Homo sapiens: one gene and its partners. The protein of the gene in region 2 interacts with the protein of the main gene of each other region in a pairwise test. Each region holds a gene or a part of one and is shown on either strand. Other genes may lie near its edges.

The links.
Region 1: the proteins of PSMB1 (region 2) and TOLLIP interact in binary tests that used the Homo sapiens proteins (3 or more experiments, as listed by UniProt).
Region 3: the proteins of PSMB1 (region 2) and IMPACT interact in binary tests that used the Homo sapiens proteins (3 or more experiments, as listed by UniProt).
Region 4: the proteins of PSMB1 (region 2) and GRIPAP1 interact in binary tests that used the Homo sapiens proteins (3 or more experiments, as listed by UniProt).
Region 5: the proteins of PSMB1 (region 2) and GPBP1 interact in binary tests that used the Homo sapiens proteins (3 or more experiments, as listed by UniProt).
Region 6: the proteins of PSMB1 (region 2) and PIP4K2B interact in binary tests that used the Homo sapiens proteins (3 or more experiments, as listed by UniProt).
Region 7: the proteins of PSMB1 (region 2) and BEND7 interact in binary tests that used the Homo sapiens proteins (3 or more experiments, as listed by UniProt).

The regions. Positions count from the first base shown.
Region 1 is NC_000011.10:1,303,133-1,306,632, reverse strand, and holds part of TOLLIP (toll-interacting protein), read left to right. Parts: intron 1-3,500. UniProt on the Homo sapiens protein: Component of the signaling pathway of IL-1 and Toll-like receptors. Inhibits cell activation by microbial products. Recruits IRAK1 to the IL-1 receptor complex. Inhibits IRAK1 phosphorylation and kinase activity.
Region 2 is NC_000006.12:170,543,308-170,546,807, forward strand, and holds part of PSMB1 (proteasome subunit beta type-1), read right to left. Parts: intron 2,878-3,500; coding exon 2,796-2,877; intron 424-2,795; coding exon 294-423; intron 1-293. UniProt on the Homo sapiens protein: Non-catalytic component of the 20S core proteasome complex involved in the proteolytic degradation of most intracellular proteins. This complex plays numerous essential roles within the cell by associating with different regulatory particles.
Region 3 is NC_000018.10:24,440,170-24,443,669, forward strand, and holds part of IMPACT (protein IMPACT), read left to right. Parts: intron 1-326; coding exon 327-449; intron 450-2,879; coding exon 2,880-2,983; intron 2,984-3,500. UniProt on the Homo sapiens protein: Translational regulator that ensures constant high levels of translation upon a variety of stress conditions, such as amino acid starvation, UV-C irradiation, proteasome inhibitor treatment and glucose deprivation.
Region 4 is NC_000023.11:48,975,744-48,978,264, reverse strand, and holds part of GRIPAP1 (GRIP1-associated protein 1), read left to right. Parts: intron 1-1,901; coding exon 1,902-2,024; intron 2,025-2,153; coding exon 2,154-2,247; intron 2,248-2,521. UniProt on the Homo sapiens protein: Regulates the endosomal recycling back to the neuronal plasma membrane, possibly by connecting early and late recycling endosomal domains and promoting segregation of recycling endosomes from early endosomal membranes.
Region 5 is NC_000005.10:57,180,559-57,184,058, forward strand, and holds part of GPBP1 (vasculin), read left to right. Parts: intron 1-3,500. UniProt on the Homo sapiens protein: Functions as a GC-rich promoter-specific transactivating transcription factor.
Region 6 is NC_000017.11:38,772,057-38,775,556, reverse strand, and holds part of PIP4K2B (phosphatidylinositol 5-phosphate 4-kinase type-2 beta), read left to right. Parts: intron 1-3,500. UniProt on the Homo sapiens protein: Participates in the biosynthesis of phosphatidylinositol 4,5-bisphosphate. Preferentially utilizes GTP, rather than ATP, for PI(5)P phosphorylation and its activity reflects changes in direct proportion to the physiological GTP concentration.
Region 7 is NC_000010.11:13,522,515-13,526,014, reverse strand, and holds part of BEND7 (BEN domain-containing protein 7), read left to right. Parts: intron 1-3,500.

The DNA of each region.
Region 1 (3,500 bases), on a different chromosome or scaffold from region 2:
ACCCATAGTGGGCCTTTACCCAGTTACTAGCACCTAGAGGAGCCCTGCTTTTGCAGGATGTCTTGACACAGTATTTATCATGTCCTCTTTCTGTTACACCTGTGGTGCCAGAGAGGCAGGAGGTTAAGCAGGGCGCTCGCTCAGCTTTCCAGCAGAAAGAGATGCTCCCCAGGGTCCGGGGGCAGGACTCTGGCTCGGGAGACCCTGACTGTGGTCTAGCCGTTGCCTCCCCCTAGTGATAAGGGGAGACGGCAAGATCCCATGGGCCGTGAAGGAGCAGAGGGGCCGCTAATGGGGTCCTGGGAGGGTTCTTTTGTCCTTGGGTAGAGGGAGCTTCAGGGGCCCGGGTGGGTAGGTGTGGAGAGGACGTGTGAAGCTAGCCAGCCCGACATCGTTCTGAGAGAATCATACCGTGTTTAGATCTTCAGGATAATGGTTCCCTGAATAGCCACTAAGGGATGCTTCAGCCCTGTGCAGTGCTTCCCTCACGTTTCAAAAAGGCCAGTATTTTGGAAAGATAACCTTTTTTCAATATAGTCTGCATATTATCAGAAAGCATGGGTGAGTACCTGCAAGGAGTACCATGTGGACCCCTGCGAGGGGTACCGTGGGGGCCCCTGCGAGGGGTACTGTGTGGACCCCTGTGAGGAGTATCATGGGGGCCCCTGCGAGGGGTACCGTGCGGGCCCCCGCGAGGAGTATCGAGGAGTACCGTGTGGACCCCTGCCTTCTGCAGTGAGATCTCGGGACGTTTGCGGGAGACTCCGCTGCAGCCACCGCGGTGCCGTCAGAGAGGCCTCCTTGGTAGAGGTGGGTGCGCTGTGCCGTGTCCAGGCTGCTCTGACTCCTTGTCCTGCTTCTGGAGGTGCTGGTTGGCCATGGAGTCCAGCTGGAGGCGGCCTGGCCCCTCCCTTCCTCCCTGAGAGGCCTGTTCCTGTCCAGGTCCCCTCACTCTTCACATCGTTGATAATTCCTGCCGAATCGGTGACTTCATTAGGGATGGCAGAGGGTAGTTTCTGAACTTTATCACTTCTTCGGTGTTTATTAACTGGGATTGTTTGTAAAGATTAGCTTTCCCCATCAACCGGTGTCGGCTGGCTGTCCTGAAACACAATTCGTGAAAGAAAGGCAAGTGAGATGCTTTTCCCTCATCTTCCCGTACCTCAAGGAGAGAGTTGCTTTTCTTTGTAGATGTGTGTGGGCTTTCTCTCCCCTGAGTGTTGTGAAGAGCCCGTGGATTTTCCTGCATCCTGTGTGTCTGAGCCAGTGGCACTTACCCGTCTCCGCTGGCTCTGGTGGGCTGCTCCTGGGAGGGCGTCCGTTCCTGCTGACTGCACCTGAGCCAGCGGGGAACGCACTCACCGCCTCCTCACGAGTCCTTTCTCTCTGGGTTCCTGTGAACCTTTGCGCTGGATTTTTTAGGCCGGGTTGTGAGTCTGTACAGGTGTGGAATTGCTGTGCTTGCCTGGAAATCACATCTTTTCACTGTGTGGGGACCCACGGGCCTCTTGGAAGATAAAGGCCTCTTGCCTTTGATTATTTTGTCTGATACTGGCATGGCCACCCCAGCTGTCTTTTAGAGAGTATTCACCTAGTACTTTTTCCTTCTATGATTTTACATTTTTCTGAAAACTTTTGTTTAAGACACGTGCACCATCGATAGCACGTAGCTGGATTTTTAAAAAGTCAAATCTAAGAAGACTAAGTCTTTTGATGGGAATGCGCTAGTTTCATCTTTCTAGTTAAGAGATGCCTAGATGGATACACAGATTTACAGATTTTTTACATGTTTTCTTTGGTGCTTTTATTTGTCCTACATTTTCTTATTTTTTTTCTCTCATTGCCTTTTGAATTTATTAAATGGAGTTTTAAAAAATTCAGTTGTTTTATCTCAAGTACATACACACTGTGCTGGGAAAGTACAGGGGCTCCCCTGGAAATGGTAACATGCACTTATCAGCTTCTGCCATGAGGGAGTCTCTGAGTGAACTCTGGCTCCGGAGGCTGCCCGGCTAAAGAATAAATAAAGAAGAAGTTAATCATTGTCTGTGCCACCTCCGGATCCACGCGGAGACCTCGGCCGCCCCGTCCTGGCGCGGGTGCTGCTGTGCCTTGTGTGGGTGCTACCTCCCCTTGGGGCTCCCGCAGGAATGTGTTACTTCTCTCGAGTCAGCGCTTGTTTAGATTTCCTTCTGTGTTTCTCTTTTCTTATCCCTTCTGGTGTCTCGGGCCTTCCATTTGGGGTCACTTTCCTTTAGCTTCAGGTTCATCTAGAATTTTCCTTGCTGGCAAACTTGATTTTTGCTTGTACATGCCTTTTCTCTGTGTCCTGACAGCTATTTTTGTGTGTGTGGAACTCCAGGTGGGCGGTACTCCAGGTGGACAGTACTCCCGGTGGACGGTCACTTGTCCTCAGTGCCTCGAAGGTGGGACCCCGCCCTCTCCTGGCTCCTGGAGTGGCTGCTGAGCAGCCCGGGAGTGGATGTCCCTTCCTCCGGCTTTCCTTCGTTTTTGGCCCTCTGTTTGCTGCCTTCTGAATACGCTGCTTCTGGCCTGCCTCCCAGTTCACTTGAGGTCTTTTTTTTTTTTTTTTTTTTTACATGGAGGCTCGCTCTGTAGCCCAGGCTGGAGTGCAGTGGCACAATCTCAACTCACTGCAACCTCTTCCTCCCAGGTTCAAGCGATTTTCCTGCCTCAGACTCCCGAGTAGCTGGGATTACAGGCGTCCACCACCACGCCCAGCTAATTTTTGTATTTTTAGTAGAGATGGGGTTTCACCATGTTGGCCAGGCTGTTCTCGAACTCCTGGTCTCAAGTGATCCGCCCACCTCAGCCTCCCAAAGTTTTGGGATTACAGGCGTGAGCCACTGCACCCGGCCCTAACCTCTGTTCATCTGGGCCTCTAACACTGTCCCTTGACCTGCCCGACAGGCCCCTGGTTAGGCCTGCTGTGCAAGTGTTTCCTGTCCCTGAGTCACTGTCTCCAGATCCTGCGGGCCCTGCCCTGGCACCGTGCTGGTGAGGCCTGCCTTGCTGCCCTGTGGGAAGTGCAGCGTGCCCCTGCCACCCGGCCTTGCCCTGTTTCTTTGCACAGCGCCTCCTGCCGTTAGCATACAGCATAACTCATGATGCTTCCCGTTTGTCTTCTTCCACTCACGTGTAAGCATCCCAGGAGCAGGGGTGCCCCAGCACCTCACCATGGAAGCCTCAGGCACACAGTGACACGCAGAGGCTGCCGCAGCGCGCGCCCTGTGCCCGGCGCCCAGGGCCTGCCACGTCACATGCCGTCCCTCTCTGGATCTCTGTCCGCCCTTGGCCTGCTGCTTGACTGGCTTTTGTTTCATCTGAATGAGAAGGGGTTTTCCGCCTCTGCCTTGCTTGACCGTCCCAGCACTTAGGATGCAAGGCTGCCTGCAGTGGAGTTCCTGGCAGAGACCCCATTTAAAGTCGCTTGTTCTGTAGTCAGCTTTTATAATCTATGCTTATTCTCATTCTGTCCT
Region 2 (3,500 bases):
CTAGGTCCGATTTCTTTCTATAAGATAAAAATGCCTAATTATTTACTACTAACTCATGCAAGTTCCTGAGAAAATAGCAAAATAACTGGCTGCTCAACATTCACTATTAGAGCTTCAATGTGCCTTTGGAGGTCATACATTAGCTTCAGTTTCTTCATCACTTTCATTATCAGAAATGAAATGAGAATTGTGTCAGATGGTATTTATGGTTCTTTTCAACTCTAGATGGATACACACATCTAGGGAATAATAACTCCTCCCCCCCACCATTTTCCAGAAAGAAGGAATTCTACCTTCTTCATCAAGTCCACCGATGATGTTGTAAACATAGTATGGAAAGAAGCGCCTTGAATACAGGATTGTAGACAGCATTGCAGCAATTGCCCCCGTAGTCATGGCCTTATTATTGGAATGCTTATACATCTGCAATTATTGATAAAAGTCACAGGCATGTAGAGGCAGAGGCCATTATAGACTAGAACAATCAACAGTATAAAGTGAATAAATAAATGCATACCACAGTGGAAGGGGAAAGCATGCCTATTTCCTTCATGATCAACCAACACAGTATTACTAACATAAAATTTTAAGGGAAGGAATGCCAAGTTTGCCCTCAGCTCTCTGGTTTAGACTCTATTTTCCATACCACCCTTATCTCAGGTACTGCTAATCCAAGAGCTAATGTGTATGAAAGGGCACATGAAGTGGCCTAAGGAAGATGGGTTTAAATCCATCTCTCTCCCTCACTCTGCATATAGACCAGGGGTCAACAAACTACCCCTGTAGTTTGGCTCAGGGGCCAAATCCAGCCTACTCCCTATTGCTATGAATATTGTCCGTGGCTGCTTTTTCACTACAGAAGCAGATCAAATGAGGCCCATAAAGCTGTAAATATTTACTATCTGGTCCTTTACAGAAAAATTACGGCAATCCCTGATCAAACCTAGATGTAAGTCCCTCTCTTTGTGGAGCAGATCTCTGTGAGAACAGAAGACACAGGGCAGCACCCTTACTCTGCATGATTTTAATACACAGCAGTGGTCGTGATCCTTAAAACATCTACAGTAGAGAACACAAGCATCCAAAACAGGGTCTTAGCATGACAATACAGTGACTGCAAATCCTAGCTTTACTATACCTTTGCGAGCCCTACATTACCCACTGGTAGAGAAACTTCACAAAAATTATAAACATAAAATGAATTCAAGATCACCAATTTTTGTTAACCACATAGCAAACATCTCTAATGAGAAACTTAATGGCCAGGCATAGTGGCTCACACCTGTAATCCCAACTGAGGCGGGAGAATGTTTGAGCCCAGGAGATGAAGGCTACAGTGAGCTACAATGGCGCCACTGTACTCCAGCCTGTGCAACAAAGTGAGACGCTGTCTCTAAATAAATAGACAGATAGATATCTAACTAGCACCGTAAAATTAAATAATGACAGTCAAAACACTGAAAAATGATTAGAAATGAACTACAAGTAACAGGTAAGTTTTTTATAGAGGAATGCCTTTCCAAGATAAAAACTATAAAAAATTATTCATAGGCCGGGCACAGTGGCTCACTGCTGGCCTGTAATCCCAGCACTTTGGGAGGCCGAGATGGGTGGATCACCTGAAGTCAGGGGTTCGAGACCAGCCTGGCCAACATGGTGAAACCCCGTCTCTACTAAAATACAAAAATTAGACAGGGGTGGTGACAGGTGCCTGTAATCTCAGCTACTCGGGAGGCTGTGGCAGGATAATCACTTGAACCCAGGAGGCAGAGGTTGCAGTGAGCCAAGATCATGCCATTGCACTCCAGCCTGGGCAACAAGAGTGAAACTCTGTCTCAAAAAAAAAAAAAAAAATTTCATTCCATTTCATTTCGAAACCAAGCACCAACATTTATTTACTTCACCACCTAATAAAGTATGAGAGAAAAACTTCAGGAAGGGGTGTGTATTATGTAGAATTCACCATTCCTTGTTTTATTAACAATATCATGTTTACTTTTGTCTTCTAACTCCCATTTATAAAATAAGCATTAGGAATTATCATATAAATATGCCAATAAATGTAAGTCACTATGGCTTTCAATGTAAGTTTCTAAAAAAGCATTAACAATTGATAAATACTGAGTGAAATCCTTTCTACACATTCAAAAAGCATGTGTCAGTTAAATAAATATACTATATACTCCAGTAACCACTCATAAGTGTAAATAATCTCAAGTGTTATTCATGAATAGGCAAAACAGAATGTGATCACCCCTGACTTCTGGCAGCTGGCTATCAACTGAAGCTGGTCAGGTGACAGACGTTAATGGTGCATGTTGTGCCTCCCATCCAAGCTCCCAGCTTATTCATTCTTTCGTATTTCTACTCATGCATCCTGCCAACTAAGAGCACAGCACTGTAAAGAGGAAAAGCTTGTCAACTGATGGTGATGCAAACCAAGCTCCTGTGTCAAATCTTTCCTGGGCTCTCTCCTGCCACAGAAATTGATTTGCTTTGTTTTTGAGGGAAGAGTATCTTCAGAAGAAGAACTCCTCCCAGGCTCCTTCTAAAAGGGTAGAGAACCCTTCATATGATACAAGACTTTAACAAATGGAATGTGCTGCTGTTTCACATTATGCTACTTTAATGACCCTGCATTAATGATATCATTTCATTTCTAGCATACATTTGTAATTCATCTACTAACCTAGTGACTCTCTAGCTATCTGACCAACAGTCATGCTGTAGGCTTAAAAGAATTTAATGAATTACTATTAATTTAAAATAGTGTAGAAATGTACAAAAGCATCTACCTTTAGTCTTGCTTCAATAATCTTTGTCAGCGTAAGACAGTCTCCATGAAAACCGCTGCATCCAATGACTGTTTTGTCTGTTCTGTAAAAAGCACATTTCAGAAAACTGAGCTGGTTAGATAGTAGAGCAAAACATATCTTCGGCAATTTTAAATTTAAAATTCTGATTCCCACTATTCCCTAAATGGTAATGGGACAAACAGTCACCCTTCTGGGGAGGAGGGGTCTGTATTCCATCTTACCCCTTATTCCAGATGAATTACAGGTGGATCAAAGACTTTAAAAATGCGACTATGAATGGACTAAATAAATCATGGGTGAATTTTTTTTACTATCTTGGGCTGAGGAAGATACGTAGGTAGGTTAATTGACTGATTTTTGAGACGGAGTTTCGCTCTTGTCACCCAGGCTGGAATGCAGTGGCGCAATCTTGGCTCACTGCAACTTCCGCCTCCTGGGTTCAAGCAATTCCCCTGCCTCAGCCTCCCAAGTATCTGGGATTACAGGCACCCGCCACCACACCCAGCTGATTTTTGTATTTTTAGTACAGATGGGGTTTCACCATGTTGGCCAGGCTGGTCTCAAACTCCTGACCTCAGGTAATCCACCTGCCTTGGCCTCCAAAGTGCTGGGATTACAGGTGTGAACCACTGCACCCAGCCTCGTGAAGGTAGATTTAAACAACACAATCCAAGGGCCACACAG
Region 3 (3,500 bases), on a different chromosome or scaffold from region 2:
GTTAAAATGCCATCCTATCATATTTTTTTGTTGCTCAAATTGTTCTAGCTTTGACCTTTAAGAGCCCCTTCAGGTTAACTCCTGTGTTCTTTTTATAAGCCCCATCTCTTTTTGAGCATTTCCCAGTTTGTGGATCCACATGAGGTTCCAGGTTCATCTTGTAGTTTCCTTGCTCCAACTCAGGAATCAACCAGTTCTCCTACGGGCTGAGTGCTGGTTCCTTTCGTTGAAGAGTGGTATTTAGAACCCAAGACCCAGTGATTTTTTTTTAAAAAGCATCGTTTCTTACCTGCGTCATAAAGTAATTGTGTCTCATATTCACATAGGCCCAGATGTAAAGAAGAAAACTGAAGAGGAAGATGTTGAATGTGAAGATGATCTCATTTTAGCATGTCAGCCGGAAAGTTCGCTTAAAGCATTGGATTTTGATATCAGTGAAACTCGGACAGGTATAATGTTACTAACTAATTTCTTTTGAGGAGAGTGGGTTGGTAGTATTATGTATTGTTCTTTGAGATGATAGAGAAATTTACTAATTTTCTCCAGTTTTAGGAAGGAGTTATTAATTTGCAGATAAGATTAATTTTTTCCTGCCTGTTGGCAATTTTGGTGTTTGCCAAGTCTTATCAGAATGGCAAGGAAAAAATGGAAATTTACTCTTTTCCCCCTACTTTCTAGAGTTTTGATTTAGTGATGGAAGAAATTGAAACTAAGAAAGGCTATTAACGTTTTTAGTTAACATCATGTTTTTATATTTCTGTATTGAAATCCTTAGCTGTTTCCTGATGTTTCAGGATTAAATTTTAGTCTGTGCTCACAAATACAAATATATTAACTGAAAGTGCAGCCCTGGAAATTAAAGCTAGTAAAATGCCTTTAAGAGGTTTTTTTTGAGAGACAAGGTCTCGCTGTGTTGCCCAAGTTGACCTTGAACTCCTGGGCTCAAGTGATCCTTCTACCTCAGCCTCCGAGTAGCTGGGACTACAAGCATGCACCATTGTGCCCAGCTTGAGTTCAGTTTTTGTTTGTTTGTTTGTTTTTTTGAGATAGAGTCTTGCTCTGTTGCCCGGGCTGGAGTGCAGTGGCACGATCTCAGTTCAATGCAACCTTGCCTCCCAAGTTCAGTGATTCTCCTGCCTCAGCCTCCTACGTATCTGGGATTACTGGCACATGCCACCATGCCTGTCTAATTTTTGTATTTTTAGTAGAGATTGGGTTTCGCCATGTTGGCCAGGCTGACCTCAAATGACCTACCCACCTCATCCTCCCAGAGTGCTGGGATTATTATAGGCGTGAGCCACCACGCCCGGCCTAGTTTTCGTTTAAACAAATTTGTTTCGTAATCGAGTAGTATTCAACATAAAAATAGGTTGCTGTGATATTATGTTTCATTTTAATATTTTAAAATTTTGAATGTTATTGTTAGTTTCCCTAAGCCTCTTAGGAAAACATGGTAGACCAGGGGGAATATTCATTCTGTTTGAAGGTGAGGGGTTTCCTGTGTCATTACACAGTAGCTTTTAAAAGGTGCTCTGAGTTTTAAGGCTTTTGAATGGTGTCCAGGACTAGTAGAAGGGAACAAAGAGGAAATGAAAGAGTGGGGAGCATCCAGGGCTCTCATTTATGCTCTAGCCTAAGTAGCTCCCATTTTAATCATTTATTTGTGTGTGGATTTGACATATGATATCTTTTGAAAACAGGATCTACCATGAAAAGAAAAAGGATAAAAATCATACTCATAAATAAATACTATCAATTGGTCAGTAGTTCATATTGACCCTAATACTGTATTTGACTTATTACTATGTTAGTACAGCAGTCAAAATCAATTCAGGAAAAGAACAGTATCAGAGGGAAGGTGTAAAACATCTTACATAAACCTACTTTCTTGTCTTGAATAACTTTTCATCCTAAGTGAGGCAGGTAGTAGTAGCCAGGACGATTAAGTCTCTCAACAGAATTGAGGGTTAATTAGTGATTCTTTTTTTTTTTTTTTTTTTTGGAGATGGAGTCTTGCTCTGTTGCCCAGGCTGGAGTTCAATGGCACAAACTCGGCTCACTGCAACCTCCGCCTCCCAGGTTCAAGCAATTTTCCTGCCTCAGCCTCCCGAGTAGCTGGAATTACAGGCACACGCCACCATGCCCAGCTAATTTTTGTATTTTAGTAGAGACGGGGGTTTCACCATGTTGGCCAGGCTGGTCTCAAACTCCTGAACTCAGGTGATCCACTCCCTCGGCCTCCCAAAGGGTTGGGATTGCAGGCGTGAGCCACCACGCCCAGCCATGATCCTTAAACTTGTTTTAAGAGGTATAATAACTGGAAATCATGATGCTCTTTAAGGAATACCAATTGGATGTATTATTGATGTATTTAATTCCATCATATGAAGTAGAAACAGTTTCATTAGCAGAAGGCATTATATTATAGCTACACAATATAAAGAATATAAATTCATAGTTTTCCCAACTCAGAGGTCTAACAACAGTGAAACTGATAAATAAATTTTATATTAGCAGCTATAAATCTTTGGTTTCAGGACTCCTTTACACTCTTAAAAATTATATATTAGATATTGTACCAACTTACACTACTGACTGCAGCAGTTCAAGATTAGTCCCAACCCACTGCTTCCCCTGGGTAACCTTGGCAGGTGGAAATCATTTATAAATCAAGTATTTTAATCTTATGTACAATATAGTTAGAAACTTTTTACTTAAAATTATAATTTAAATTTAATTTTGGTAGATAGCGATTAATGGTTATTTTAGTTGATTTGCCATGTAATTTACATTTCTTTCCCAGCTGCCCCCCCATTTCATTTTTTTCAGTATTTGAATGTAAGGCTTTTTAAAAAATAAAGTTTCTTTTACATTTCTAGAAGTAGAAGTAGAAGAATTACCTCCGATTGATCATGGCATTCCTATTACAGACCGAAGAAGTACTTTTCAGGCACACTTGGCTCCAGTGGTTTGTCCCAAACAGGTAAAGTTCCTTTGTCTAGCTCACTTTGATGATTACTAAAATAATTCAGGTAAATGATTTTGCAATAATCCCCTTGTTTTTACTTTTATGTTTTATTTTCATATAAGATAAAAATTATTTGTTCATTTTTCTACTCCCAAATTACTGTGAATCACGGAAGATTTGTTTTGTTTCTGTTTGTCTCTGCTTTCTTTCTTTTTTTTTGTGATGGTGTCTCACCATGTTGCCCAGGCTGGTCTCAATCTGGACTCAATCAGCCCTCCTGCCTCCAGCCCTCCCAATCCAAGGTATTGGGATTACAGGCATAAGCCACCTAGCCAGGCCTGTCACTGCTTTCAAAATTGTATCTAAACTCTGATTAGGGGTTAACCCTCTAATGAATCTTTAAATAAGAAATACCCATTGTGTTATTAGAGAAAATTATGATGCTTAATACCTTGTCAAAAAGAATTATTTGTCCTGTCGAATGGGAGTTCTGTGAAACTAAGTCCATTCCTCTGTTATTATTCAACAAAGG
Region 4 (2,521 bases), on a different chromosome or scaffold from region 2:
ACCCAAAAATCTGAGAACCCCTCCCCTTTTCTCCTCACCTAAACCCATCTCCTACTTTGGGCGCAGCACACATATTTTCTTGTCAACTTTTCCCCAAGCCCACCAACTTGGATTCAGATTGCGACATGCAGGACAGGCCAGTCATTCTCTCTCTCTGACTTTCTGTTTAATCATCTGTGGGCTAATTCCCCCTTCTCTGGTGCCATAAATTATGTGGCTCATAGTAGGTGCACCATCCAAGGAGAAGGTCCCTTTTTCCAACTTGTAATGATCACTAATTATTATTGCCGGCTGTCATGTCAGCCTCCTTACCAGCCACTTTCCTTTGGAAATAACTTTTTTATTGTTCCACAAATAGTATGTGCTCATTGTAGTACATTTTTTAAAAACCACAAATGAGCAAAGATTTTTTTAAAACCTTAAATGTCTGGCCGGGTGTGGTGGCTCATCCCTATAATCCTACACTTTGGGAGGCCAAGGTGGGCGGATCACTTGAGCTCAGGAGTTTAAGACCAGCCTGGGAAACGTGGTAAAACTCCGACTCTATTTAAAAAAAAAACAAAAACAAAAAAACCTTAAATGTCAAAAAAAAATAATATTTTCACCATCCAGACGTCACCATTATAAATTCTTAGTTCAGGGCTGGGCGCGGTGGCTCATGCCTGTAACCCTAGCACTTTGGGAGGCTGAGGCGGGCAGATCACTTGAGGTTAGGAGTTTGAGAACTGGCCTGGCCAACATAGCAAAACCTCATCTCTACTAAAATACAAAAATTAGCCGGGCGTGGTGGTGCGTGCCTGTAGTCCCAGCTACTCGAAAGGTTGAGGCAAGAGAATCGCTTGAACCTGGGAGGTGGAGGTTGCAATGAGCCGAGATCACACCACTGCACTCCAGCCTGGGCAACAGTGAAACTCCATCTCAAAAAATAAATAAATAAAATAAATTCTTAGTTCATACCCTTCCAGAATTCTCTCTCTTTTTAAAACCTAGATGAGATTAACCTGTTTTTTATTCAACTGTTGTCTCTACCTTCCCAATTTGATCAATTTTCATGTCATTGGCTGGGTGCGGTGGCTCCTGCCTATAATCCCAGTACTTTGGGAGGCCGAGGCGGGCAGATCACTTGAGGTCAGGAGTTCAAGACCAGCCTGGCCAACATGGTGAAACCCCATCTCTACTAAAAATACAAAAATTAGCTGGGCGTAGTGGCGCGTGCCTGTAATTCCATCTACTCGGGAGGCTGAGGCAGGAGAATCGCTTGATCCTGGGAGTTGGAGGTTGCAGTGAGCCAAGATCTTGCCATTGCACTCCAGCCTGGGCAACAAGAGTGAAATTCTGTCTCAAAAAAAAAAAAAAAATTCATGTCGTCTGATACTTTGACCTTAACCAGATTTCTCTAGTTGGCCCCAGAATGTCCTTTCTTGCTGGTTTTATGAAAACTAGCATTCAGATTCAGAGCACATGTTACATCTGGTTGTTTTATGGCCCTTAAATCTCTTTAGTGCGGTCCCTTTTTTCCTGAGACCAATTTGTTGAAGAGGCCAGCCCAGTCACCCCACAGGAAGTATGCTACCTTTTGGGTTTTTCTGCTGGCTTCCTGGTGGTATGATTTAACATGTCCCTCTCTTCCAGTTTTCCTGTCAGCTGAAAGTTAGATCTCATTTGCTTTGGGATCTTCCTTCAATCCTCTCCACAAGGCTCTGATGTGGTTACTCTCTACCCCCATTTAGGCAGAGGAGAAAACAGAGTCTGAGGGTACCAAGATGGGCCAACAGTCCCAGCTTCAGGGCCCATGTTCTCTCACCCACCTCTGGCCTGGTTCTCCTCCCCAGTCCCTGACACCTGTCTGGGGTCGGTGGTGCTGAGCCCGGGGCTGGCCTCTCCCCTTCTCTTTCCTGCAGTCCTTATCCAGCAGCCCTCAAGCCCAGCCCCCTCGGCCAGCAGAGCTGTCAGATGAGGAAGTGGCTGAGCTCTTTCAGCGGCTGGCAGAGACACAGCAGGAGAAATGGATGCTGGAGGAGAAGGTGCTGCCTGCCTGCCTGCCTGCCCATCCCCACTTGAAGTGCCCTTGTGGGTGTGGGGTCTGCCCGGGCCCGCCTCATGTGTGAACATGTACAGTAGAGGGGTCTCAGGTGGGCTGGGCCATCTTGCAGGTGAAGCACCTGGAAGTGAGCAGTGCTTCCATGGCAGAGGACCTCTGCCGGAAGAGCGCCATCATTGAGACCTACGTCATGGACAGCCGGATCGGTCAGTGTCCCCTCCCCGGCCCTCAGCCCTGGTCCAGCCTTCACCTGGCCCTCCCTCTCCATTCTGTGCTGCGGCTTCTCTCCTCTCCTCTCGGAACTCAGCGAAGCTACTGACAAGACCATGGCCTGTGGAGGGGAGAACAGGAAAGCACTGTCTCTTGATCTCGCCTCCTCCCTCTTCTCTCTTTCTCTGTCATCTCTCCACTCTCCATTCTCCATTGTGTCTCTCTGTCCACTTTCTCCTTTCCTCTCCCTGTGCCTCATCTTCCTCTCCT
Region 5 (3,500 bases), on a different chromosome or scaffold from region 2:
AAAAGGGTCATGGCTGAGGGTTTGGAAGGGAACTTGGTTTAGGATATGGAATATCTAGAAAAATGCCTGTGTGACTGTATGTTCACCTAACTTTTTTTGGCCTTAGTTTCTTCATTATACTGATGGAAATATATATGGAGGGTTTTTGTAAATTGTGAAGTGTAATACAGATGTAAAGATTTTTTTGGGGTTTTTTGTTTTGAGACAGAGTCTCGCTCTGTCACTCATGCTGGAGTGCAATGGCACAATCTCAGTTCATTGCAACCTCCGCCTCCCAGGTCCAAGCGATTTTCCTGCCTCAGCCTCTCAAGTAGCTGGGATTACAGGTGCCCACCACCACGCCCAGCTAATTTTTGAATTTTTAGTAGAGATGGGGTTTCCCCATGTTGGTCAGGCTGGTCTCCAACTCCTGATCTCAGGTGATCCACCCACCTCAACAAATTTAAATATGGCTTTAAAATATAGTTTGAAAACTGAATTAAGAATTAAAGGGGGCCAGGTGCAGTGGCTCATGCCTGTAATCCCAACAGTTTGGGAGGCCAAGGCAGGAGGAACACTTGAGATTAGGAGTTCGAGACTAGCCTGAGAAACATAACAAGACTGTCTCTCTACAAAACATAAAAAAAATTAGCTGAGCATGGTGACATGCGCCTGTAGTCCTAGCTACTTGGAAGGCTGAGGCAGGAGGACTGCTTGAGCCTAGGAAGTCGAGATGGCAGTGAGCGGTGATTGCACCACTGCACTCCAGCCTGGGTTGCAGAGTGACACCCTGCCTCAAAAATGAATAAGAATTAAAGAGATGAGGCCGGATGCCTCGGTATTTTTGGCGCTGCGATCGCGACACTGCACTCCAGCTTGGGGTGACAAGACTGTGTCAAAAAAAAAAAAAAGAACCTCTGACATACAAAATACTATTTAAAAAAGGGGTGAGGGGGCAGGGCATGGTGGCTTATGCCTATTATCCTAATACTTTGGGAGCCTGAGGCACGAGGCTCACTGGAGCCCAGGAGTTTGAAACCAGCCTAGGGAACATTTAAAAAAAAGGTGGGGGGGCGGTGCGGGGGCAGGGAATACATCTCTTTTCAAACTCCTGACCTCAGGTGTTCTACCCACCTCGGCCTCCCAAAGTGCTGGAATTACAGGTGTGAGCCACCATGCCAGGCCGAGACAGTGGTTTCTGAGAATTCTTTGAAATTGATAATTTTGTGGGCATTTCAGTGCATTTTTCTGGAAAGGTCCATTACCTTCAACAGAAATGTTGAAAAACAAAATGTTAGTGGTTACTGGTAAACTGTTTTGTGGTTGTGACTGTTTTTCAGTTTTTACCTGCTTGCTTTTCCCATTTTGTCAGCTGTCCCACCCATCACAATAGTTAACAGATTTGCTGTATAACCCTGCAGATAATTGCTAGTTTCTGCATCTTTTTATATACAAGATATGTCATTTAGTTTCTTGGTCTTTAGTTATTATTTTGTTCACAGCTTGGTGGGTGCAGTGCTTTTGGTCTTTCCATTTTCTTCCCTTTAATTATTTTATAAATTTTTTGAGACGGAGTCTCCCTCTTGCCCAGGCTGGAGTGCAGTGGCATGATCTTGGCTCACTGCAACCTCCACCTCCCAGGCTCAAGTGCTGCTTCTGCCTCAGCCTCCCTAGTAGCTGAGATTACAGGCACCTGCCATCAGGCCTGGCTAAGTTTTGTATTTTTAGTAGAGATGGGGTTTCACCATGTTGACCAGGCTGGTCTTGAACTCCTGACCTGAAGTGATCTGCCCACCTCAGCCTCCCAAAGTGCTGGGATTATAGCCATGAGCTTCTGTGCCTGGCCTTTTTTTGAGATGGAGTCTCACTCTGTCGCCCAGGCTGGGGTGCAGTGGTGCGATCTCGGTTCACTGCAACCTCCAACTCCCGGGTTCAAGTGATTCTCCTGCCTCAGCCTCCCGAGTAGCTGGGATTATAGGCGCCTGGCACCATACTTAGCTAATTTTTGTATTTTTAGTAGAGATGAGGTTTCACCATGTTGGCCAGGCTGGTCTTGAACTCCTGACCTCGTGATCCACCTGCCTCAGCCTCCCAAAGTGCTGGGATTACAGGCGTGAGCCACCGCACTCGGCTTCTTCTCTTTAATTCTTATTTATTTATTTTTGAGACAAAGTGTCACTCTGCCACCCAGGCTGGAGTGCAGTGGTGCAGTCACGGCTCACTGCCATCTCGACCTCCTAGGCTCAAGCAGTCCTCCTGCCTCAGCCTCCCAAGTAGCTGGGACTATAGGCGCATGTCACCATGCTCGGCTAATTTTTTTTATTTTGTAGAGAGAGAGTCTTGTTATGTTTCCCAGGCTAGTCTCGAACTCCTAATCTCAAGTGTTCCTCCTGCCTTGGCCTCCCAAACTGTTGGGATTACAGGCATGAGCCACTGCGTCTGGCCCCCTTTAATTCTTAATTCAGTTTTCAAATTATATTTTAAAGCCATATTTCAATTTTTTTCCTACACTTTTCATGCAAGAATAAGTTTTTAAAACTCTTAGTTGCCAGGCATGGTGGCTCATGCCTGTAATCCCAGCACTTTGGGAGGCTGAAGCGGGTGGATCACCTGAGGTCAGGAGTTCAAGACCAGCCTGACCAACATGGCGAAACCCCGTCTCTAATAAAAATACAAAAAATTAGCTGGGCGTGGTGGCACATGCCTGTAATCCCAGCTACTTGAGAGGCTGAGGCAGGAGAGTCGCTTGAACCCAGGAGGCAGAGGTTGCAGTGAGCCGAGATCATGCCATTGCACTCCAGCCTGGGTGACAAGAGTAAAAACTCTGTCTCTAAATAAATAAAAACATACATACATACAAACATATGTACAACTCTTAAGTTATCCTTTCTCCGAAACTGAGAATCTGGGCTTGGCTTGTGGCTCACGCCTGTAATCCAGCACAGGAAATTTAGAAATTAGCCCAGGTCAGTAGTGCGCCTTGTAGTCCCAGCTACTTGGGAGGCTGAGGTGGGAGGGTCACTTGAGTCCTGGAATTTAAGATGTCAGTGAGCTATGATTGTATCACTGCACTGTAGCCTATGCACCAAACAAGAACCGCCCCCCCATCTCAAAAAAAGAATTACGATGAAAGTGTAGTATAAGGGAAATACTAGTCTATGTTTTTGTATTAAAATTAACATTTCAAGAGTTGATAGCTAATATTTTTTAATACGGGGGGGATATGAATTTTTTTTTTTTTTTTTTGTTTTGGAGACAGGGTCTCACTCTATCACCCAGGCTGGAGGGCAGTGGTGCCATCACAGTTTGCTGCAGCCTCGACCTCCCAGACACAGGTGATCCTTTCTTTCACATCAGCCTTCTAAGTAGCTGGGACCACAGGTGAGTGCTGCCATGTCCAGCGAATTTTTTATTTTTTGTAGAGATGGGCTTCTGCCATGTCTCAGAATTTTGGTAGGCTGAGGCTGGTGGATCGCTTGAACCCAGGAATTTGAGACCAGCCTGGCCAACATGGTGAAACC
Region 6 (3,500 bases), on a different chromosome or scaffold from region 2:
AGCTGAATAAGGCTGAGCATGGTGGCTAACACCTGTAATCCCAGCAGCTCAGGAGGCTGAGGCAGAAGGACTGCTTGAGGCCAGAAGTTGGAGACCTGGGCAATTTACTGAGATCCTGTCTCTACAAAAAATTAAAAACTAGCTGGGTGTGGTGACATGTGCCTGTAGTCCTAGCTATTCAGGAGGCTGGGTGGGAGGATCCCTTGTGCCTAGGAGTTCACGGTTGTGGTGAGCTATGATCATGCCACTGTGCATCAGCCTGAACTAGAGGGTAAGACCCCATCTCTTTAAAAAACAAAACAAAAGCTAGGCGCGGTGGCTCACGCTTGTAATCCCAGCACTTTGGGAGGCCAAGGCAGGCGGATCACGAGGTCAGGAGATCGAGACCATCCTGGCTAACACGGTGAAACCCCGTCTCTACTAAAAATGCAAAAACAAAATTAGCCAGGTGTGGTGGTGGGCGCCTGTAGTCCCAGCTACTCGGGAGGCTGAGGCAGGAGAATGGCATGAACCCGGGAGACGGAGCTTGCAGGGAGCCGAGATCGTGCCACTGCACTCCAGCCTGGGCGACAGAACGAGACCTCATCTCAAAAACACACACACACACACACACACAAAAACTGATTAATATTCCATTGTATGGATGTATTACATTTTGTTTATTCATCAGTTAATGGACACTTGTTATATCAGTTGGGGTTCTCCAGAGAAACAAAACCTATAGGATGTTTTGTAAATCTCTTTATACCAAGATATTTATTTTTTATTTTATTTATTTATTTTTTTTGAGACAGAGTCTTGCTCTGTCACCCAGGCTGGAGTACAGTGGCGCGATCTTGGCTCACTGCAAGCTCCGCCTCCCGGGTTCACGCCATTCTCCTGCCTCAGCCTCCCGAGTAGCTGGGACTACAGGCGCCCACCACCATGCCCAGCTAGTTTTTTTTGTATTTTTAGTAGAGATGGGGTTTCACCATGTTAGCCAGGATGGTCTTGATCTCCTGACCTCATGATCTGCCTGCCTCGGCCTCCCAAAGTGCTGGGATTACAGGTGTGAGCCACCACGCCCGGCCCTAAGAGATTTATTTTAAGGAATTGTTTCATGGGATTATGGATACCAACGAGATCTGCAGTCAGCAAGCCGGAGGCCCAGGAGAGCTGGTGGTGTGGTTTTATTCTACAGGCCATCAGGCCACCAGGCAGAAGGAGTTCCCTCTTCCTCACCGGAGGGTCACCCTTTTTCTTCTCTTCAGGCCTTCTGCTGATTGGATGATGCCCATCCACACTGGGGAGGGCCATCTGCTTTACTCAGTCCACCAGTTCAATGCTCATTTCACCCAGAAACCCTCACAGACACACCCAGAATAATGCTTGACCAAGTGTCTGGGCACTCAGGCCCAGTCCAGCTGGCATATACAATTAGCCATCACACTTAGGTTGCTTCCACCTTGTAGCTGTTGGGAATAATGCTACTGTGAACATGGGTGTCATAAACTTCGTTTTGCTAGGAAGCGTTTCCTTAGTCACCCCCAACTATGTTCTTTCCTTATTCTGCCTTTCATCATCTGACATTATTTGTCCTGAGTCTTTGTCCTTCTCCCTTTTCTACCCTCTCCCCCTACTGTGGTTCTGAGAAGAATTTAATGCAGTTTACTCAGTGCATTTGTTTTCAATGCATGTTGCTTTATAAATGTTCTCAGGTGGGTGGAGGGCATGGTGCATGGACCTTCTTTTTCCTGGGACCCTAGCCCCTTCTCCCTGGGCCTTGAGAAGGCTTTGTCTGGAAGTGCTCAGAGTGGCATCCCTCCCTCCCTTCCTCTTCCAAGGAGATCCTGCTGGGCTCCCATCTTTAGGGCTCCTTGTCCTTAGTTGTGTTCTGGGCTCGTGCATAGAGCTGCTCTGCTTCCATGATGATTCTCCTCCTAGTTCTCTGTTAGGACCTAACATGGTGGTCAGTCTAACAGTCTCCTAGTGACCACTGTATGATGGTGACTGCACTCTTGCCTCATTATTAGCTAAACTGGAATGCTAGCTGGCCATTTCCATCCTGTATCATTCCATACTTTGTCTTGAAATCCTAGATAAAAGACTTGAACCACCACCCTGCTCACAGCACCCATTATACAGATGAGAAAACTAAGGCTTGGCAAGGGGAGTCACATGATGCTAGGGGAGGACTTTCCCCCAGCACCACACAGCCTCTTTTGACCTTCAGGGAATGGGTTGAGAATATTGGTTGGTTCTGGCTGCCATTCTTGTATGGTTTTGTGTTCCCTTTTCCTTTTTTTTCTATTTTTACCTGGGCTGAAAAGTCGATGACATAGTTTTTTCAGACTTTGTCTCTGAGGCCAGTTAGAAGTATATTTTACCTTGCAACCCAATGGATACACACAACTGAAACACTGTCTACCCTTATTTTCTGTCATGTATTCTGATATTTTCTATTCTATTTTATTATACAGTAGTCCCCCCTTATCAGCAGGGGACATGTTCCAAGATCCCCAGTGGACGCCTGAAGCCACAGATAGTACTGAACCCTGTATATACTATGCGTGAATTTTTTTTCCTTCTTCACAATTTCACGGATAGAAGATTTGTTCTTACAGGAGATCTTAGCAACCTCAGCATGCAATTTATTTTCTTTGTAAGTCAAGAGCTTTCACCTTTTCACTTAAAGCTGGCCAGGTGCAGTGGCTCACACCTGTAATCCCAGCACTTTTGGGAGGCTGAGGCAGGTGGATCACTTGAGGTCAGGAGCTCGAGACCAGCCTGGCCAACATGATGAAACTGTCTCTACTAAAAATACAAAAATTAGCTGAGTGTGGTGGTGCATGCCTGAAGTCCCAGCTACTTGGGAGGCTGAGACAGGAGAATCACTTGAACCTGGGAGGTGGAGGTTGCAGTGAGCCGAGATTGCACCAGTGCACTCTAGCCTGGTGACAGAGCAAGACTCTGTCTCAAAAAAAGAAAGCACTTTATGGCTTCTCTTTGGCATATCTGAATTGCCAACATCACTACTCTTGCTCTGTGGAGTCATAATGAAGTCAAATATGGGTTACTTGAATACAAGCACTGTGATACAACTATAGTGAACTGATAACCAAGACAGCTACGGACAGCTACTGAAAGACTAATGGGACGTTAGTGCATACAGTGTGGATATACTGCACAAAGGGATAATCTGCATCCTGGGCAGCACTGAATGGGACATAGCAAGATTTTATCATGCTACTCGGAATGGTACACTATTTAAAAACTTATGAATTATTTCTGGAATTTTCCATTTAATATTTTTGGACTGTAGTTGACCACAGGTAACTGAAACCATTGTGGATAAGGGTGGACTACTGCATTTAATTTAAAGAAATCCTAGTTCCAGCCCACTACATTGGGTTTAGGACTCATAATGGGTTGAAATTTTGATCTGAAATATATTGTTGTGTCATATCCATCGCTCCATCCTCTTCCATAGTATATCATTTCATTATTTCTTTCCTCAAACT
Region 7 (3,500 bases), on a different chromosome or scaffold from region 2:
AAGACCTTTTATTTTACAGATTGCCAATATATCCCTTATTAACATTGCTAAAAGTTGTAATTTCAGACATAAATGTTTATTAGTGTCTACACACAGTGCTAATTATCACTCACTCACAGAGCCAGATGCTGACTGTGCAGTTTTGTGGCTCTGCGCTCACCCCATTTACATTGCATATTCGTTGGCATGCTTCACTGGCAATAGTTTGTGTAATTGGGGTATTACATCTTTGACATCTGGATAACAGAAATTCAATTTCCAGGAAGCTGCTATTTGTTTGGTTTTGCTTCTGCCTTGGGTGGGATAGAGGATTAATGTGCTGTCTTATAATGTCCCTTCACCTCTGTGGCCCAGTTGCTAATCCTGCCATGACAAAATTAAATTAAATCTACAGTCAAAAAGCATAAGGAAAATAAAAGTGTGACTGTCTGCCTAACCAGCTCTTGATAGTGCTAGTTATCATCAAGCAGCTCCTCATTTTCCTGACTTTGTGCTCCTTTCACACCAGCATTTTGGGACAGGGGGAACAGCATGCTTTCCTCTTACCATCCTTGTTCCCAGCTCACGTCAGGGATGAGCAGAGCTAAAACAGCATTTCTGAGACTTTCCAGCAAGTGTAGCTGCATGATGGGTGGGTAGGTAGCCACAAACATTGCCACCTTTTCCATGTGCAGTGTTGGTGCAAATACTGTACAGGAAAGACTTTGGATGTGCAGTTTTTTATTTGCACACAATCAGCCAAAAATGAAACCACGTAAGATTTTGCCTCTAAGAGTGAAGTACCCATAAGGTCAGGGTGGAGAGTAGATGGTGGCGTTGGGCCTCAACCTTGTCCATCTTGGACCTCTGCAATCCCAGGTAGCAGGGTGAGGGCACAGCACTGCACAGCAAGGAAGCAGAACATGAGAGAGGTCAGAGCGAGAACGATTACAAGCAAAGCCACAATTACCCCATCAAGGGGGACTTCAGGTAGCAGGACTGCTGCTCAGACCCGGTGTGGGTCAGCCTTCAAACGAAGCTCTCGCCAGGATCTCTCTGGTTTTGCTTTGAGGGATAGAAAGGGTGGGTCGGGATGCATTGGGAAGAAGTCAAATATTAATATATACTTTAAGAGGAAAAATAGGAGGGAAATGTCAGCATTTCTTACATGAGCGATCATTGATAGCACATAGATCTTTCTGCTGAGGGAAAGAATATCACTGGGGCCAGCACTGCTCCCAGTACCTGTTTACTGTTAAGAGAGCTAGGAGCCAAAAGGTTAATAATCAAGTGAAATGCTGTGGCCCAGAAAGAGAATATTCTTGGATTCTAGTCTTTCCAGTCCCCTAAACTTGGTCAGTTGGAATTCTTTTTTTTTTTTTTTTTTTTTTGAGACGGAGGTTCACTCTTTTTATCCAGGCTGGAGTGCAATGGCATGATCTCGGCTCACTGCAACCCCTGCCTCCCAGGTTCAGGCGATTCTCCTGCCTCAGCCTCCTGAGTAGCTGGGATTACAAGCACCTGCCACCACGCTTGGCTAATTTTTTGTATTTTTAGTAGAGACAGAGTTTTACCATGTTGGCCAGGCTGGTCTCAAACTCCTGACCTCAGGTGATCCACCTGCCTCAGCCTCCCAAAGTGCTGGGATTACAGGCGTGAGCCACCGTGCCTGGTTGGTCAGCTGGAATTTTGTATTATCAAAGTACCACTCTATATAGCCATTCGAAATAACGAATTTACCCTTTAGTAGAAAATTTACGTTCACCATACAAAGGGAACATCATGTCCTTGATTTAGTTCTCCAGCAAGGCAGGCTTTCCCGCACTTTCTGTTGTGTACTACTAGAAAAGTGGTAAGGTCACTACGAAGGAAGTGAATTGTAAGGATAAGAGAGGGGAAGCTGAAGAGCAACAGGATGCTAGTGCCCAGGATTCAGTAAGCTGGAAACTCCCAGAGATGATAGACGTTGTTGCTTTTCTTCTTCCTAGTCCAAGTTGAGGAAGATGCAAGAATTCCAATGAAGGACCAGGCTTGAGATAGATACGCTTTCAAAGTGGTTGCTCCAGAAGGCCTTCAACATCAAGAGACAAAAGATTGAACAGCCTGGGAGTGTGCTGTGGGTTATTTTCAATCTTTTGCTCATTCTTGGGTCATCATGTAGTTGGTTCCCAAATAACATTTTTATTTTGTGATCTCTAGGTCAGTTAAGAAAAAATAACAGAAATTGTCACAGCAACATGATTTCTGGAGCAATTGAGAATAGTTACTGATGGCATCTGAGAGTAGGAATTTTTTGTTGACAGTGTTATAGTTTATAGTTTTATAGTTACACTTTTCAAAACATAAAGATTTCAATTATGTTTATTTTATAAATTGCTAAAGCCTGTCCATAAAGATGTAGAATTATATGGGAAGCTTATGACATCCAAGGGGGTTTGGTACCAAAATACTAGAACTCTTTCCCCTATAACAAAGTACTGACACACTGTCCCAGGGATGGTCTATAGGATTTTCTACATTCAAACATATGTGTTCCCTTTAATAGTATCTGCATCTATAAGATCAAAGTTTATGTTCTAGGTGAAAAAGAGTCTTCTAGAATGTGGCAGAGGTTCCCACATCAAGTCTACCTCTCTGGAACATGTTTAGGCTGTTAACGAACGTAGTGTATCTCACATGGTAGGGTAGCTCAGTAGTGTAAATGGCTTGGCCTCGTGCTTTAGGAATTACTCACATATTTTTAATTGGATAATAGGGTCAGAAGACGTTACTTTACCCTGTGGACATTGACTTTCTCAAGCTGGCTGTGATGGGACTACAGTGAAGATTTAAGCACTGTTTGAAAGGAAACAGTTCTCTTAAATCAGTTCAGCCAGTGTCTTTATAGAAGATACTCTGAACTCAGCACTTTTCTGGAATGGGAGTGGGGTCAGAGATAGTCACAGAAATGGATAGGACAGGGACCTTGTTCTCAGGGATTCAGATCCAGCTGGGGAGGAGACAGGACAAATTCAGGAAACGGAGCAGTATTCAGCAATCGTAAGAGCTACAGTTGTTTGAGCACTTAACTGTGTGCAAGGCAGCACACTGAGCACTTTACATGAAAGACCTGATTTGCTCTTTGCAGCATGTCTGTATGAGTTACCGTCATCCCCATTTTGTAGATGAGCCTAGAGATGTCGAGGTGACCTGCCCAAGGTCTCTCAAGTAGGAAGTGCCACAGGTAGGGTTCCAGTGCAGGTCTGTCTGAGCTTTGAACACTCCACTTAACCGCCTGTCTGTGAACGGTAATTAAATGACAAATGTGAATGATCAGGGCAACAGCAAATGCAGAGTTGGAAGGGGTAGAGGGGAGGGCTCTGCAAAGCAGAGATGTTGAACTACAGGAAAGATTCGCTCCTGTATTTCTCCTCCCTGGAGAAGATTCCAGGTGGGAAGGGTGAGGGAGCCGCCAATAAGCATCATTATAGCTCGACCATGAGTGTTGCACTTATGGTTTAGAAAGTGCTTTCACATCTGTC